Linked DNA regions of Homo sapiens. The protein of the gene in region 1 purifies or fractionates together with the protein of each later gene. This does not show direct contact. Each region holds a gene or a part of one and is shown on either strand. Other genes may lie near its edges. The genes, in order: OR52N4 and RBP1.

What was found.
Region 2: the proteins of OR52N4 (region 1) and RBP1 purify together in Homo sapiens (affinity purification with mass spectrometry; one large-scale study listed by BioGRID and IntAct). This does not show direct contact.

The regions. Positions count from the first base shown.
Region 1 is NC_000011.10:5,752,760-5,756,730, forward strand, and holds OR52N4 (olfactory receptor 52N4), read left to right. Parts: upstream 1-1,483; 5' UTR 1,484-1,546; intron 1,547-1,933; 5' UTR 1,934-1,981; coding exon 1,982-2,947; 3' UTR 2,948-3,199; downstream 3,200-3,971. UniProt on the Homo sapiens protein: Odorant receptor.
Region 2 is NC_000003.12:139,529,662-139,533,488, reverse strand, and holds part of RBP1 (retinol-binding protein 1), read left to right. Parts: intron 1-3,827. UniProt on the Homo sapiens protein: Cytoplasmic retinol-binding protein. Accepts retinol from the transport protein STRA6, and thereby contributes to retinol uptake, storage and retinoid homeostasis.

The DNA.
Region 1 (3,971 bases):
CCAGCAACTAACAGGACCCTTCTACCACATACTGCCTTTCAGTTATCACTCTCTCTCACTTTTTAAAAAGATTTTTCTATTTCTAATAGCACAGAATAATTTGATCCGTTTTTGTATTTCATTTAAAGATCACAAGATGTTACATCTATTTTAAGTCTTTCTAAAAAAAATTAACACATATTGTGAGATTCGTCTATATTATGCATATAGTCATAGATTGTTTATTCTTATTGTTACGTGGTATTTCATTGTGGGAATGTACCAAAATTTATTTACCCATTTGATGTTGATGAACATTTAGGTTTTTTCCAGTTTTAGGCTATACTACAAATCATGTTTCAATAAGCATTCTAATTGATGTATTCTAGTAAATATATATACATAGTTTTGTTGGAAATGGCAATGGTGGTCATGTGTATGTTTATCATTATGAGATATCTAATAAAGAGTTGTTCTAATTTACATGTCTACCAGCAGTAAATGAGAGTTCCAGTTGTTCTACATCTTTGCCAATGCTTGGTATTTTTAGTTCTTTTCATTTTAGCTGTCCTGTTTGGTATGTCACTACATACCAAAAAAAGGTGCTTTGTCATGAGAGATACAATTTTTACTTATTTTTCTGATTAATATAAAAGTTTGTGCCTATTTACCTGTTCATTGGCAATTTTATTTCTCTTTTGAAGTGTATGTTTCTTCCTGCAACTTTTTCTTACTGATGTTGTTGAAGTACTTTATATATTTTCTGTATGTATGCATTTGGATATCTTCTAGTTTGCGTTGACTAGATACATAAAGAACAAGAAAGATATCTTGAAAAGTGAAAAAATTGAATCAAAACTTCATTGACTTTTTTAATTTTAAATTTTTGTGGGCACATAGTAGGTGTATATATTTATGGGTGTATGAGATATTTTGATAGAAGCATACAATGTGTAATAATCCCTTTTAAAGGGCCGGGCACAGTGGCTCATGCCTGTAATCCCAGCACTTTGGGAGCCTGATGTGGGTGGATTACCTGAGGTCAGGAGTTGGAGACCAACCTGACCAATATAGTGAAACCCCATCTCTGCTAAAAATACAAAAATTAGCTGGGCGTGGTGGCATGTGCCTGTAGTCGCAGCTACTCGGGAGGCTAAGACAGGAGAATTGCTTGAATCCGGGAGGTGGAGGTTGCAGCCAAGATTGCGCCACTGCACTCCAGCCTGGGCAACAAAGCAAGACTCTGCCTCAAAAAAAAAAAAAAAAAAAAAAAAAAATCCCAGTAAAGTAAATAGGGGTATCCATCATCTCAAACATTTATCCTTTGTGTTACAGACAACCCAATTATATTATTTTAGTTATTTTAAAATATACAATTAAATTATTATTGAGTATAGACACCCAATAAATTTACTAATTTTTGAGACCCCAAGCTTCATTGAGTAATAATTTAATTAAAATTTCAAAATTCTTTGAACAGTGCCTGAGTACCCAAGAATAAATATCAGTCAGTCATTAAGAATAAAAATTAAAAAGTCAACATCTCATCTCTCAGATCATCAGTGAGGTAATCAAATGACTCTTCTTTAAAATTATATCTATATTGAGATGAGTATAGTTATAGTTAAGTAAGATATTCTAATAAAAATACCATTTGAAAAGTCAGAATTATACTTGATTATAAATCTATGAGATTGGGAATATGTCTTTTTATAAAATAATTGATGTTTGATTGGCATCTGTGTTGAAAACTTAGACTGCTCAATAAGAATTTTTTACTGAATCAATTAATTAATCAATCAATAAAACTAAACAGACAAACAAAATTATTTCTTGGCACTCAGAAATTTGGTTGTTGGACCATTAAAATGCATTATGGAATTTTTAAAAGTTGGGGGAGAGGGAGACAGTAAAAATAACCTATATTTTCTCTTGTTTTTTTTTTTAACTCTAGGAAAGCCCAGACAAATTTTGAGCTATTTCATAACCTACCAGACTTATCATGCTAACACTGAATAAAACAGACCTAATACCAGCTTCATTTATTCTGAATGGAGTCCCAGGACTGGAAGACACACAACTCTGGATTTCCTTCCCATTCTGCTCTATGTATGTTGTGGCTATGGTAGGGAATTGTGGACTCCTCTACCTCATTCACTATGAGGATGCCCTGCACAAACCCATGTACTACTTCTTGGCCATGCTTTCCTTTACTGACCTTGTTATGTGCTCTAGTACAATCCCTAAAGCCCTCTGCATCTTCTGGTTTCATCTCAAGGACATTGGATTTGATGAATGCCTTGTCCAGATGTTCTTCACCCACACCTTCACAGGGATGGAGTCTGGGGTGCTTATGCTTATGGCCCTGGATCGCTATGTGGCCATCTGCTACCCCTTACGCTATTCAACTATCCTCACCAATCCTGTAATTGCAAAGGTTGGGACTGCCACCTTCCTGAGAGGGGTATTACTCATTATTCCCTTTACTTTCCTCACCAAGCTCCTGCCCTACTGCAGAGGCAATATACTTCCCCATACCTACTGTGACCACATGTCTGTAGCCAAATTGTCCTGTGGTAATGTCAAGGTCAATGCCATCTATGGTCTGATGGTTGCCCTCCTGATTTGGGGCTTTGACATACTGTGTATCACCAACTCCTATACCATGATTCTCCGGGCAGTGGTCAGCCTCTCCTCAGCAGATGCTCGGCAGAAGGCCTTTAATACCTGCACTGCCCACATTTGTGCCATTGTTTTCTCCTATACTCCAGCTTTCTTCTCCTTCTTTTCCCACCGCTTTGGGGAACACATAATCCCCCCTTCTTGCCACATCATTGTAGCCAATATTTATCTGCTCCTACCACCCACTATGAACCCTATTGTCTATGGGGTGAAAACCAAACAGATACGAGACTGTGTCATAAGGATCCTTTCAGGTTCTAAGGATACCAAATCCTACAGCATGTGAATGAACACTTGCCAGGAGTGAGAAGAGAAGGAAAGAATTACTTCTATTTGCCTCTTATGCAGGAGTTCATAAAATCTTTCTGGAAGCACTGTATTGATCACAAAATGGAGTTTGTTAACTGGTGCATTCTCAATAAGTACCTTGGGAATCTCAACATCATTGGAAGGCCCACCAACATTTCTATAAATTTTTTACCTTCTCACTCATGTGAAGGACCAGTCTAATAATTAAACCATATTTTATTCGACAAAACCTAATGAGTCCATTTTTTATGAAAAGACAAATCTAAGTAGAAGGAGATGATGTGAGTCTTCTTTTCAATGATCACAATTTTCAGATTAATATTTCAGATTAATAGCCAGTTATTACTTTTGTCTAGAAAACATGTGCTATATATTTCTCATAACTACCAAAAACCTGTTTCTTCAATGACATTTTCCTGAAGGAGAATCTAGAGTGCATGCCATAAAGTCTAAAATGAGTTTTAAGTCTCTAAGCATCTAGCTAAAATATTATTAGGCTGAATAGGTCACATAATTATTTCACAACAGAATAATTGGATATTTCGTTTTCTTTAAAGGGGCTTTTTAAAAAGCACAGAGCCTGGAAAGAGAGGTAGAGATCTTAACCAAAAATAAAAAACAGTATAATTTTTTTCTAAGACCTGTATGAAAGGGGATCAAAATCTACTTGTTTCATTTTATCTCTAATTGTGAATCTAATAAGGAAAATTAGGTATATATTTCTAATATTTAAGATTTATCTAAATTAAAAAACAAGTGAGAAACTATAGAACATAGTATTTTCATATTAATGTCTCATAAACTAAGCCAATTATATAAGGAATATAAACTCAACTTTTACTGTTATTTTTCTGTGTCCAACTGACAAGAAAACATGTACTTCCCTGAAATTTAGTTAACTATAGTCGTCAAATTGCATTTATTCACTTAGTGAATCCTTCTTGACTATGTTGCATTTTACAAGCTGGCCAAACAGCAGTACCCACTAAAATATTATTATC
Region 2 (3,827 bases), on another chromosome or scaffold:
TTTTAACCGTCTATGTTTCCTTTCCTTCCCTCCCTTGACTTCCTTACTTACATCCTTCTATTTCTCCACCCATCCATCCATCCATCTAATTATATATGGTAATACATGAAATCCAACAAAGTACTGTTGACACTTTGGTTTAAACTCTTGCCAGCTTTCTGATCCTATTCTTGACCCATTAAAGAGATTTTTTGATTTGTTTTAAAAAACACACACACACACACGCACACACAATGCCACTGGCTAAATTAACTCCCTGGGCTGCAGCGCTGAGAATGCCGTTGGATGTGGGAGCCTCTGAGAGCTGCCCCTGCCCAGATCAGGCACCCGGCATTCAGCTGGGCCCTTTCCAGGCTAGAAACACAGGATCTCTTTCATGTCTTAGCTAAAGTTCTCCGACCTTTGAAATCGGTGTCAGCAGCGTGCTTTTGAGGATTACAAAAAGAAGAATTAAAGCAACCCAAATAAAATTCACAAAGTAGCTTTCAAAAATCACACTGCTTTGTTGGGTTTTGGGTTTTGTTAGGCAGGAACAAAGGAAAATAACATGTACTGAATCTTTACTAAGTGCCATGCCTGCCCCAATTGCTTTTTGTACTTTTTCTCCTTTGGTCCCCACAACAAATGCTGTTCAGTAAGTATCATTATACTCATTTCACAGATGAGAATCTGAGGCTCAAAGAAGTGAAGTGCCTTTTTAGCCCAAGGTCACCCTTGGGCTAGCTGGTGGCAGAGGAAGAATTCTAATTAGTCTGTTTATAAAGCTCTCTACCCCAAGGTCTCCCACAGAGCTTTGCTGAAGGCCAGCACCTCAGTTCCTTATTGTGAGCCTTCTCACAGTCTGAAGGTAAACCCAGGCAGTTTTGACAAGGCCTAGGATGAGTGAAAGGAGCACCGGTATTAGAGTCAGAACATCTATTTGAATTCTTCTCGATTATCTGACAGCGGCCTTAAATGATTAGACACACTGCCTTTGTTTTCATATCTGCAAAACGGGCATCATAATTGCTGCTCAGCGTGTCTCACAAGGCAAAGCTGAGGACCATAGAGATAGTACAGGGCACATGAGCTTGGGAAGCCACAATACTATGTGAGAACAGGGCCAGGGCCTGTGATACCCGAGACTGAGGGGCATGGCATAATCACTTATGATGGCCAGGTATTTACTGAATGAATTACAGCTGTTTGTTTTTCTGACCAACATTGTTCCTCCACCTCCCACCCAAGAGAAGCACTGTTTTCTTTATGGTGGGAATTACTCCTCCTCAACCTTTTGGGTCCTGGTGGGGCTGCAAATCATAGTACCCTGTCTCTTCTGGGAAGAGCACCTTCTGATAGGGTGATCACAGTGTCCCGTGGCCTGTCACATACTTGTGTATGTGGCCCAAGCTGGGCCAGTCACCATTTCCTGGGAGTTAATTTAGGAACCCTGAGAGACAGGTGAGTTCTATTCCGTTAAAGGTTGATGAGCTGTTATGATGTAAGCTTGGTGTTCTCTGAGGCCAGTCCCCTTACCCCACCTTCCTTAGCTGCATGGAAAAATCCAATTGAAGGAAAGTAAAAGATGAGGCCAATAGAGACAGAGAGAATGCAACATTAGAGGGTTACTAGAGTTCCTGACGCACCATTCCTAGATTTTCCATGTACTTCAACCAATACATTTTTTTTCTTTCACCTTAAGTTATGTGAATTGGTTTCCTGCCACTTGCATCTGAAAACATCCTAAGACATTCAAACTCCAGATATCAAGCGTTAAGACCCACATAAGTAGTTAGAGCAGTGGTTCTCAAATTTGAGCATGCCTTACCCCTAGAATTTCTCATTCTGAAAGTCTGGGGTGAGGCTTGAGAACTTGTTTTTCTAACAGGTTCCTGGATGATGCTGATGCTGTTGGTTCAAGGACCATGCTTTTGATAACTACTAACAAAGAAAAACAAGGAAGCAGGCTGGCCTGTGCCTAGTTTCCTGTGATTTTTCTCATCATGATTCAATGTAATAAGCCTGTGCTGGGGTAAAATGTGCCTAGTTCTAGGGGATGAATGAGAATAGGTAGGTGTAGCTCCATCCCAGGATCAGGGTAGTGGGGGATGAAGACTGCCTGGGGACCTCAATCTTGCAGCAGCCCACAGTGGTTTGCAATTGAGGGTCCAAGTAAGTGATACCAATAGTGTGTGCAGCTGGACAGGTGTGAGGTACAACAGAGCAATTAGGAGCTTTGACTTTGAGATGGACCTGGATTTGAATCCTGGTTCTGCCGTACAGCTGTTTCCTTGGCAAGGGTACTTTATCCCTCTGAGCTTCAATGTGCTCATTTGTAAAAGGAGCCAAGGGTAATACCCACCTAATGGAGTTATGTGAGAATTAAATATGGTGATGAATTATTTCTGTTTCCTGTTGCTGTGTAACAAACCACTCTGAAACTTAGTACCCTAACTCAACAATATTTATTTTGTTCACAAATCTGCAATTTGGACAGGGCTCAGTGGGGATGCCTTGTCCCTGCTGCCTGCCCTGCCAGTGGGGAGGTAGAGGATCCACTTTCCAGATGGCTAACCCACACTTACTCTCTGCTGGGTGCCTGGGCTTCCTCACTACGTGGCAGGTAGTTTCCAAGAATGCAAACACCATAGGGTGCCAGCTACCTTTAATACAGGGATTAGTGCGTTCTTCCTTTCTTCCTTCCTCTTCCCACCCCTTCCCTCTTTCTTCCCTCTGTCTTTCCTGAACTGAGGGTCCAAGGATAGCATAGGAATACTCTGGGAAAGAATGGTATAAACAAGATGGGTGTGAAGGTGGGGATGGCATGGAACCCAGTCTCCAAAACCTACCTTTGCCAGCTTTACAGTGGAACTGGTCCTGCACTAAGAAAATAAAAAATAATAATAATAATCTTCTCACAATGTGCAATAAATCAGAAAATCATCTTACTCTTTGACTCAGGGATCCCACTTATGGGATTATATTCCAGGAAAATCACTCTATTTGTACAAAGGTATCTGTTAGTCACTCTGTGATAATAATTCTCAACAACCCACAGAAGCATAACCACTATCTCAGGGCCTACTATGCGGCAGGCCCTGCCCTGTCATTTTATGTTTATTTAATCTCCTAACAATCCTGGATAGGAGGTGCTACTCTCCCATTTTACAGACAGGGAGCCAAAGGTCCTGCCCAGGTTCACATTACTGATTAACCATAGATTTGTGATCTCACTTCGGATGTCTCTGATTCCCTACTTTGTATGGTTTTTATAGAACAGGCTGTCTCCTGCTGGTATACCTAAATATCAAATAACTATGGGTGGTTAGAAAGACTGGCTTTTTAATTCCATAGACCACTATGTAGCCGTGTAAATGATCACTATGAAGATAAATGAAAAGTTTTTATAGGCATTCAGTCACCAAGTTCCATAGATTCTGCTTCTTAACGTCTCTTCCTGTTTTTCTTCATTCCCACTGCTCTGAATATCTCGTGCCAGTAATAATAATAACAATTAACATCTCTCGTGCTTACTGTGTGCCAGGCTCAGCGCTTTCCATGGATTATTTCATTTAATTACTGCAGTATCTTCACATTCATCTCCATTTTACCATGCTCAACACTTCAGCCCATCCCTCCCTTTCTAAAAAGGGAATCTGATCATGCTACTCCCCAGCTCAAAATTCCCAAGGGCTTCCCAGTGCTGATGGGTAAAAGCCAGATGGCACTCAGGCTCTTCAGATCATGGCCCTGCCTGTCTCTCCAGCCCTATTCCTTCCCTCACTCCTTATGCTTGGCCCCATCCCATCATTTGTCAGTGCCTTCACTTGCCATCCTCTTTGCATCCC